2 separate regions of the Homo sapiens genome follow, and region 2 is linked to region 1. Evidence: fine-mapped expression QTL. A gene starts in region 1. The other region holds a variant in brackets. All regions are shown on one strand. Distances are between the middles of the regions. Region 1 holds the start of GCOM1 (GCOM1, MYZAP-POLR2M combined locus). Region 2 has its middle 28 kb from the start of GCOM1.

What was found. PIP is the estimated chance that this variant, and not a neighbour inherited with it, causes the effect.
Region 2: its variant is fine-mapped to the expression of GCOM1 in T cells (TOPMed, PIP 0.97).

What each region holds. Positions count from the first base shown.
Region 1 is chr15:57,588,933-57,594,309 of GRCh38, reverse strand. It overlaps GCOM1 (GCOM1, MYZAP-POLR2M combined locus), which reads right to left and starts at 2,406. Exons shown (of 17, transcript NR_104371.3): 1 at 2,201-2,406. It overlaps MYZAP (myocardial zonula adherens protein), which reads right to left and starts at 2,406. Exons shown (of 13, transcript NM_001018100.5): 1 at 2,201-2,406. The coding sequence starts at 2,275. RefSeq lists a silencer at 2,408-2,517.
Region 2 is chr15:57,560,797-57,566,173 of GRCh38, reverse strand. No RefSeq gene overlaps it. Among named protein-coding and RNA genes, the nearest start is that of GCOM1, 28 kb to the left of the region's middle. The variant T/C (reference allele first, on the strand shown) is at 2,479.

The DNA of each region.
Region 1 (5,377 bases):
ACCCTGTCTCCACTAAAAATACAAAAATTAGCCAAGCATGGTGGTGTGCGCCTGTAGTCCCAGCTACTCGGAAGGCTGAGGCAGGAGGACTGCTTGAACCTGGGAGGTGGAGGCTGCAGTGAGCCGAGATCGTGCCATGGCACTCCAGCCTGGATGACAAAGTGAGACTCCATCTCAAAAAAACATACCTTTAGTGAGAGGCCTTCCCCTGATGCCTCAGGAAGAACCTTTATTTTAGCTTCTACAGAACTTTGTAAACTCTTCACCCCACTATAACCATCACCACTTTGTTTGATGTTAGTTTGGGAAAATGTCTGCCTCTACAGGTAGGGCGGACCCCAATGCCAGCCCTTTACCACACAGAGAAAGGTTTATGAATGTTCAATAAATCAATTAATCAACATCTCACAGCTTCCCACCACACACACAATCCCCAGCACACACACAGATAGTACTTGTAACATCTGCAAATCATGAGCAGAGCTAGAAACCATAAAGATGGGCAGAACCCTAGACCCTTTAGATACCTTCCTTCCAGAAACAAGTACCAGTGTACCCAGGACAGCCCTGAATGGCCTGATCCCGAGCCCTGAGTTCTCCAGTCCAAAATACGTCTGCCATCTTATTCAAAAGGCAAAGTCTTTTCAAGAGTGTCACAATGTGTCCGACAGCAAAGCACCTATAATTAAATAAATATTCCAAAGGAAACGTTTGACCCAAAATCTTCAGAAATGTTATTTGTATACTAGTCACATTTGTATCAACCCACCGTATTAGGTTAGGTACCCCAACTAATCCCCACCTCTGGAAGGGAAGTTACAGAGAATTTCATGCAATTCATGCAGTCTGGTCACACATATGATCCTCTCAGGGCTCAGGGTTAGCTTTTCAGTGACTTCATTCTTTCTCAGTTGCAATTGTGTTCAAATTGAGAAAGATTTCCATAGAAAAATACAAACACCCAACTTAGAGTAAGGCCAGGACTGTGGTTGGAAACCCCCTTGGACCCAATGTAGATCTTACTCTATGATGCTAATGATTGGACAACTGGAGTTCTGTCAACCTTGGGCATGAGCCAACTGATGGATTCTGGGGTGTGTGTGTGTGTGTGTGTGTGTGTGCGCCTGTGTACACAACCTAAGTGTCTGGTGAGTGCACGCACACACACACCCCAGAATCCATCAGTTGGCCCATGCCCAAGAGTAACACACCTTTCTTCTAGAGCTAAGAAAGACAGCTTATAAGGTGACCACCATCACTCGCTTAAGGCATGTAAAAGCAAATAAGCAGGTCCAAGCCTGCACGCAGACAGAACCAGTGGGGGTTTTGCTTTGGACTTAACCACCTGTTTAAATCTTGAGGAAACACGATTACAGAAGTCTCAATCAGAGCAAAGAGGTACCAAATGATAAGTATTGAACATCATGATAAATGGAAGAACTAAAAAGCCACAAGCCAAGCCCCTGGCTGTGGCTCTAAGGTGCTGACCGTGTTAGAAAGATGGAGCATTTCTTTTACAGAGCATCTGGAGAGATGGGAAAAGATGCCACAAAGATCAAAAAGAAACAGCACTTCCAAAGGGAAACCTTCCCTGGAGATGCTGTCCCAAGCTTTCAGTGCTGCCATTGTTGTCACTGTGCTAATATTTAAATCAGACAGAAGAAAGTGGTTTACATAAACCGGAGTCCCACACAGTCGGGCTCCTGGGCGGCCGGCTGCTGTTCTGGTTTGCCCACCTTGGCTAACCCCACTCCAGAATTACCCTATCACTAGTGGATACCCTATCACTAGTGGACACAAGTGACCCCATCTTTCTTTTAATTAATGGAAGAAGGAAAGTTTGAGTTTTAAATACATTCATTACTTTTGAGTCTCAAGGTAGGGACACTGCACAAATGTCTTCCTTCATTTTTAAACTGGTGCCGCCAATAAACTCGGCTTGACAGAAAGGCAGGAAGGAGAGGAAATCTCTGGGAATTCCATAAAGTCCCCTAAGCCCTCTCCTACCAGCTGGTGGGCCCCCTGAAACCTCAAGCGGGAGGGTCACTGCCAGAGCCGGCACAGGACCGGGGAGTTGAGCCCAGGGTGGGGCGTCGGGGCCAGGTGCTGGCTCCCGAGCTTTCCCATCCCTAGTCCCCTCTAGAGGGGGCGGCCGGGATGGGGGAACGGGACGGCGGCGGCTCCCGCCCCCGCTACTCACCCTCCTGCTGGGCGCCCCGGGCGTCCTGGCGGCGCCGCCCGAGAGCAGGGTGACCGTGGACGTGGAGCGCAGCATCCCGCAGCGGCGGTCGGTAGCGGGCTGGACGCCGGCGTTCCTCCCGGGCAGAATAAGCGTGCGGGGCCCGCCCTGCGCGGGGGCGACGCGGGACGGCGCCGGCTACTTGCAGCCTCAGCTGCACCGCGAAGGCCCGGGGGTGGGGCCGGGGGCGGGGCCGGGCCGGGCCGGGGCGGGGCCGAGCGCGCTCACCCGACCCGTCAGGCTGCATTTTCTCCCGAGGGCGCCGACCCGGTTAAAGTTGAGCACCATCCTCTCCCAGGGCGCTGCGCCCTCCCAGGGTCAGTCCCAGGGCAAGAAGGAGCCCTGGACAGCCTGGACGCCCATGCTCTCTCTGTCCCCCGCAGAGTTGAGATCCACCTGCCCATTCAGTCTCACGACCTACCCCCACCCCGGACTGCCCCCTACAGCCTCTGCACGCCCTCGTATCACTGGGACCCTCACCCCATGTCATTCATTCAGTATTTCCTGAATGCCTATTATGCGTCCCCACCAGCAGCCAACCCAGTCGACTGGCTGTTGGCCTCGGAGAGTTTGCAGTGTGGTGGGGATGACAGGTGCCGGGCTGTGGTAGAAGAGGAGATACCATGTACTAAGGGAGCACACAGCCAACCTCAGAGGAGGTGATGACTAAGCTAAGACCTGAAATGCAAGTAGGAGTGGGCCACACTGCCCATATTTATTCAATGATTACTGTGGGCCTGCCTGGCGAGCACTTTGCGTGTGTTACCTCATTTAATCCTCACCATTGCCCTTTGAGGGAGTCACTGTTGTTACCTTGTATCCCCATTTTGCAGATGAAGACGCTGACTCACCTAGGGATTGAGCAACACAGCAGGCGACCCACTGGCCTCTCAGTGGCAAAGGTAGGATATGAATCCCCCAGTCCGACCCTAGTGCCTTGCTTGTCCCCTCTGCTGTCCCCTAACAGAGGGAGGAGGGAGTCCCAGGTCAAAAGAACTAGCATGCACAAAGATGGAAGGAAAGCAAGGGAAGGTATAAAATATGTTTCAAGAATTGGAAGTATCACAGTGCAGTGGGAAAACAGTGGAGAAGCAGCGGAAGGGAGCTGAGGACATCATGAGGAACCTGTGTGCTTAGCTGGAAATTTGGCCTTTATCTTGAGGACAAAGTGTTTTTCAGCAGGGAAAGACACAATCTCTGTCTTCAAAGCCCAGGTCAAGCACTGCCTCCCCACGGAGCTCTCCAGAAACCCCTTCCCCAAACACGCATGCTCAGGAACTTAGCAGCTCCGCGGGACCCTGTCTTCTGTTAGAGTTATCTATGTGTGTGCCTGTACCCTGTCCTTCTGGAGGGCAGAGGCCAGGCCTTGACCCTCTCTGAATGCCCAATGGCACCAACAGGGAAGATGCTGAAAAAAAAATGTTGCTAAACAGAATTACAGATGATCCTGTGGAACTCACTCCTTTTGTAGATGAGGAAACTGAGGCCGGTGTATACAAGTGACTTTCCCAAAGTTGCACAGCCTGTTCTTCACCATCCTCATCGTCATCCTCACAGTAGCTGTGCTTGTGTCCTAAGTGCTTTATATGCATTTTCTCAACCAATTCTCACAATGCCCCACAAGGTGGGCTACAGTTATCGCCCCTGTTTTGCAAATGAGGAAACTGAGGCCAGAGACATTAGGTTAATTGGTGAACAGCTGAGACTACACATCTAGTCTTCTAACCCAAGTCCTTCTGCTTTTCTGCTACACTCCTCTCTGCATCCTCCCATCCACCTATCCCTTCCAAAAAGAAAATTGTTCATGACAGGTTCCTTCCCATTCCACTTCCACGAAGCCCTCTAATCTACCCAAGTCTTTTTCATATTGTTAACATCCTATTCACACGGTGTTATATTTCTTTACAAAAGCAGCAGACAGCTCACTAGCTTGTGAGCTCTGTGTAGAAGCTGGATCTTGTTTACATCTCTGCCTGTCCAATATCTAGAGCAGGTAATTGACGTGTGGTAGTGCAAGTAAATGTGGAAAGAATGAAGAAATGTTATTACAGAGTAAGATTTCAACTCACTCATGGTCATGAAAAACAGAAACTAAGATCCTTGCCAACCCAGCTCCTAGGGTGGGCCAGGGACTCCAAGCAATTTGGCAGCTGAAGCAACAAGAGCCCCAGGGTTGTCCCAGCCAGGCCATTTCCCCAAAGCTGGCTGACAATCGCCAAGGGCTGTGGGTGGTGTGTCCAGGCAGATGCCAGGCCCTGGCTTATGCCACAGCTCCTCCCTAATAGGCCAGCACTAGGAATCTGAGGTCATAAGGAACTGCAAGAGAGAGGAGAGTGGGGAGCCCAGAAAGTGGGAAAGAAGGAAAATGGGAAGACAAGTAGGACTGAAATCAATGGAAAAGTGGATCTAGAGTGGAGAGGAAAAAGTAAAAAATGAAGTCACAGTCACTGGTTTCCATTAATATTTCTGAGAGAAGATGATTTTTAAAAAAAGATGGACTCTTTTCAAAAGAGGAATCAAAAGCTGAGAACTTCTGCCCAGTCAGCAGTCCTCTGGAGTCTACAGAACTGAGAGTGGGGAAGAGGGCCAATGGGAGGGGAACAGGGATAAGGGTCTGGTGTAGAAGTTCTCCACATTCCCTTGCAACATGACTCATCTACTCCAGACCCTCTGAGCATTGGTGATGAAGGGGTTGCTAGTGTTTGGGCTGGAGAGAACGGGAGCTATGACAAAACTGTCTTAGCTGTCATCCTTTTCTATCCACAGAAATAGCCACATAGGCCTAAGAGCAGTCCTGAATTTCTCTGCTAAAGCACAGGTGTGTAGAAAATTCCAGATGTCTGTATAAGCACCCTTCATTTTCTTGTAATCAGTTACTGAATTTTACCTCCTTCTCCCATCCCAGTTCCTAGAATTATCTTTCATATCCTCTAGGTCTCTGCTTCTGAATTGTCTTTGTTGCTTTCTGCTAAACTCTTTCCAAATTCCATTGGCATCTTTAGTTGAGAGGCTTATGATAGGACCCTTTTCTCCAGCAAAGTCCTGAGCAGCAATGACTCATTATTTCTTGCACAAATGATCAAGAGTTAAATCACTGGACAAGAGCACACAGTAGATGAACCCAAGCAATTCTGGCCC
Region 2 (5,377 bases), 28 kb after region 1:
TGCAGTGGCATGATCTCAGCTCACTGCAACCTCTGCCTCCCGGGTTCAAACAATTCTCCTGCCTCAGCCTCCTGAGTAGCTGGGATTACAGGTGCGTGCCACCATGCCTGGCTAATTTTTGTATTTTTAGAAGAAACAGGGTTTTGCCATGTTGGTCAGGCTGGTCTCAAACTCTGCCCTCAAGTGATCCACATGCCTAGACCTCCTAAAGTGCTCGGATTACAGGCGTGAGCCACTGTGCCTTGCTGGAAGCTACTACTAAAAGAAAATACCTGAAAACTCAAAGACTTTTTATTCTTTCCTACCCACTGGCCAGAGATCTCTTAGCCTTCCCTCAGTATACTAAAAGTACATGAGTAAATAGTCTGCCAGAAAGGGTGGAATAACCTGGGGACTATTACACCGTACAGTAGCCAATTCCATTTTTCTTTAATAACTGGCAATGAACACTCCCAGGCGTTTTCATTGTTCGTGAAAACTCTGCTTAGAACACAGAACAGAATCAGAGGTACAGGACCAGCCACCGAAGTTACACCTCTGGTTTGGTTGTCTGATTCAGGAAGGAAGAAGGTCAACTCCACAAGCCCCACCCTGGCAGGTGTGCGGAGCACGAGGGGGCCTTCCTGAGAGAGCAAGGAAGTGGGGCGGGAGATATCCCTGCTGACGAAAGAGACAAAACCACATCCAGCCAGGGGCTGCTGTTGCAGTATGGAGTTCCCCTCCGCGATGTGAGCAAACAGAAGAGAGAAAACGCCATCTCATGCCAGGATCCTTTCAAATAGGTCTCTTTCCCAGCCAAGCCTACTTTCTGCAACAGTTTTTCCCTTACATACGAAGCTTCTAGCAAAACACCCAGCATAGAGTGGGAGCTCAGTGAATATTTGTTTCATGAATTAATAGCAACATTTCTTATGATGGCAAACAAAAAATAAATAACTAAAATGTTCTACAATGACCTACTGGGTCATGCACATTTATGGTATGCCCATAACTAGGCAAGTCATTTAATATTTCTATGCATAATTTTTTTTGCTAAAATAGAGTAATAGTACCTATCTCACAGGGTTATTGTGATGATTAAATGAGCTTAGGTATATAAAACAAATAGAATATTGCATAGCATATAAAAATTACAAAACAAATGTTAACTATTAGTATTATTATTCCATGGAATACAGTGCAATTATTAAAACTGTGTTGAAAAAATATATTCTTTTGAAAAAAATTTTTGAGAAAATATCTTTTTATAGCTGAAAAAATTCACAATAATTTAAAAAAATAAGCTATGTAATAGCATAAACAGTAAGATTCCACATTTTGTGAAATAAACATCCATGTAAAGAAAAAAGTGTACACAAATATACATAAAAATATTTATAGTAGTTATTTCTAAATAGTGAAAGCAAGGGGGACTTTCTTTATTATTAATTGCTTATCTATTTTTCAACAGTCAGTATAAATTATTTGAGTAAGTATAAAAATTAAAAATCCAATTGAATCAGAAAAGCATTCATATTATTTGACACACTAATTCCAATTTGAGGATACTATTCTTTAAAAAAAGTCCCAAGTACCAAAGAAAATATTGCCTATAAGAATTAGGTAAAGTGCCAGGCGCGGTGGCTCACGCCTGTAATCCCAGCACTTTGGGAGGCCGAGGCAGGCGGATCAGGAGGTCAAGAGATCGAGACCATCCTGGCTAACACGGTGAAACCCCGTCTCTACGAAAAATACAAAAAAATTAGCTGGGCGTGGTGGCGGGCACCTGTATTCCCAGATACTCGGGAGGCTGAGGCAGGAGAATGGCATGAACCCCGGAGGCGGAGCTTGCAGTGATCCGAGATCGCGCCATTGCACTCCAGCCTGGGTGACAGAGCGAGACTCTGTCTCAAAACAAACAAACAAACAAACAAGAATTAGGTAAAGTGTGATGATTTTTCTATAAATTATAGAATAATATATAATGAGTTTAAAAGATTGATGTTCAAAATAGGCGTCAAAAAGCATTAGAGTAACGCTTGAAAATATTAGAAAATGCTATCTATATTAAGTTAACTGGGATACAAATGACTAGTATCTGATCTCAAGCATATAACAAAAGTAATCATTGGCAGAAACAATAGCTGACTCTCTGCCCTTTGTTGAAGTTAACTATATTTGTCACCTTTTGACCAGAACAAGGTGGATTCTTTCTCAACAATTTACAAATTAGCCAGAAACCCCTAAACTTAATAGAACTTCAGTTCTTCCAGGTGGAGGGTTGTCCTGTGACATAAAACTAAAATCATTAAATCTATCCAGTCTAGGAAGAGAAAAGCCCAAGAGGAAATATGCTGTCCATGTATGAAATCATAAACGTTCAGGTAAATATAGCCCTGTTCATTTATCAAAATGTGAGACAAACAAAAGTTATTTTAATTCTATCAGTATTTGTCAGGCACCTGCTACAAACAAAGATGAATAATGAGACAGACTTTG[T/C]CCCGGAGAAGCTCACCACCTAATGATGTAGGAAAAAATAACTATAATCAGCTAACCACAGTCCGGAAGCGCTGCAAGAGAACAAAAGACCACAGGAGCCCAGGGAAGGGGGAAGTTTGGATTTGAAGCATCACCTGGGACGTAACCTTGATGCTAAACCTTTACACTAAAGCATGAACATGGTTTTGGTAACCGGCAGACTGAATGGTCAAATTCTAAGCAGGGATGCCGTCCTTCACTGAACCACTGATGGGCACTGGGGGTAGCTGATCACTCTTAGGGCTGTGTCCCTGTGCACTTGCAGAATGTGTCAGCATCTCAAGTTGACAACTTCTTGAGAAGTTGAGGGAATGATGTGGAAGAAGGAAAAGAGCTCAACAGCCCAAATCCAAGAAGCAGATCTTTAAGCGCAATGCAGTGTTTTAAAGCCTGCTATAGGAGTACATGAGAGGGGGACCACACTTAAGCACAGCCCATTTAAAATGCTTTAATTGCCTATCTGTGCAATAAGACTGAACCAAATGAATATTGACAAATCCGCTAACATAATCTAGTCTTGCCTTGCATTTATAAAGGTTAGGACCCAGAATTATAATGTTCTGTTTAATTTCAAATGCCTGCTGTCTGACAGGGGCTTTCTCCCGAGAGAGAAAGGCGTGGTTCTTTCCCTCAAGGGGCTCCCACCCTGGTGTGAAGAGACACACACATCACAATGTCAAAGCCTCGAGGGAGGCACGGGCCTGCCTGGGGATAGCCAGAAGGTCCTGCTCCCACCAGCACCTTCACTTTTAGAGCAAGGAGGGAGTGACCAGCATGGACTAGACAGAGGGGGAGAGGTCAGGAGTTAACTCACAACCAATGTTAAAAATGGACTTAAAGAAGAAAAGGATGTTAGCCTGGAGAAGAAAGAACTTAGAAGGGGCCTAAGAGCCTTTTTGACTATAGAGCCACAATGAGGAAAATGGGGAGAGTGGGTCAGTGCCACACATCCCCAGCAGCAGGCAGAGCAGAGATGATCACATCTAATATCACAATCACTTCTGAAATTCTACAAAAATCCACAAAAGAGAGTACAGGAAGAAACCACACACAGGGCCAACAAAGGATGGGATGAATTCAGGAAGATAGGAGAGTGGGGGATGAACTTCCACCGCTGGGTAATAAGGGAAGCAGGGACGTGAGGACAGACGTTCATGCCTTCCCACAGGAGGCCTTGGAGCTGCCGACAAGGCATCTCCCAGATGACGGAGCAGGCGTGGCAGGACGCCATCTCGCTCAGGGCAGCACCTGGTTAATGTCAGCACCGGGTCTGGTGAGGGCTGGTCTCTGCTGCGACATGGCAGGAAGTGTGCTGTGAGATCTGGTTAGAGGATGTCAAGAGGACCCCCTTGCCACAGCCTAACCAGTGTGTTCTGGACCCCACGTTTCCCTTTCCAAACTCTAATCCATCCTATCATTGCTCAGGGCTTTTTGATTCTGCTCCTTCCTCCCCTCCCCACACACATAGAACCTTTTATTCCAAAATCTAGCAGTACATCATTGGTTAGTAGAAAATAACTCTCAGAGCCGGGCGCGGTGGCTCACGCCTGTAATCCCAGCACTTTGGGAGGCCTAGGTGGGTGGATCACTTGAGATCAGGAGTTCGAGACCAGCCTGACCAACATGGAGAAACCCCGTCTCTACCAAAAAATATAAAATTAGCCAGGCATGGTGTCGCATGCCTCTAATCCCAGCTACTCAGGAGGCTGAGGCAGGAGTATCACTTGAACCTGGCAGGTGGAAGTTGTGGTGAGCCGACATCGCACCATTGCACTCCAGCCTGGGCAACAAGAGTGAAACTCCTTCTAAAAAAAAAAAAAAGGAAGAAAAAGAAAATAACTCTCATAACTTAAAAACAAAAATCAACAAACAAACCCCCCCCTCAAAAAAAAATCCTATAACATAAACTTCCCAACCATCTAAAAACCCAAACTCAAAACGTGTTTCTTTTGTCTTCCCTTCTTGAAGGAAGTAGGTCTGCACGGGCCTCCCCATCTCCTAGAGCTCGTACACAGCTATGAACCTGCTCTCAACAATGACTGGACACTTCCTCTTGGTTCATGGAAAAATTTGCTCGTAATTTTCCAGTCTGACTCAAGCTATCAGCTGGCGATACAGTTTTTTGCCAGCTTTACAGTCATTACATTACTCAAACAGAAACCCTTTTGCAGGTGACCTTGAAAGTTATTAAAAACTATTCTCTTTTTGAAGGAAGGACTTGTTGGGGGCGCCTGGTAGAGAGAGGATGTCTCGACTGGGTCTGGTGGTGACGACATCCTGGAAAAGGAACAAGATCCAAGTCACCAATCATTCTCTTATACAACGCATCCTTGAATTTTGAAGAGCCTGATATTGTGGATGGTTTGTATTGTCATTTGGCAGCAAAAATAACCTACATTGAATACACAGAAATAGTCCTCCACAGCCTCTGCCCGGGCTTTCCAGGTTTGACCACTGTGCAGTGCCTGTGATGCTCTCTGCTGCCACCCAGTGGATATACTGAGAAAGGTCAGGTAGGATGTTTAAACCCAGAGGTTCTCAGTGTGGTCCCCAGACCAGCAGCATTGGCATCAAATTCTTGGCTGCCCTAGAAACTCTGGGAGTGGGGCCAGCAGTCTATGTTTTCACAAGCCCTCAAGGTTATTCTGATGCACACTGAAGTTTGAGAAACACTAGTGTAGACTAGGTAGTAATTTGCACCCAGGGATGTGTGAAATGGATCATCAGATTTCTCCATTGGGAGAAGTCGATTGTCCTTATTGATGATCAAGGATCACATCTTTTATAGGAACTAATTTCACTGGCTATTTTAAAAAAATTACTCGTCTTCTCAGAAATGACAAGAAGGCATAAACCCCAA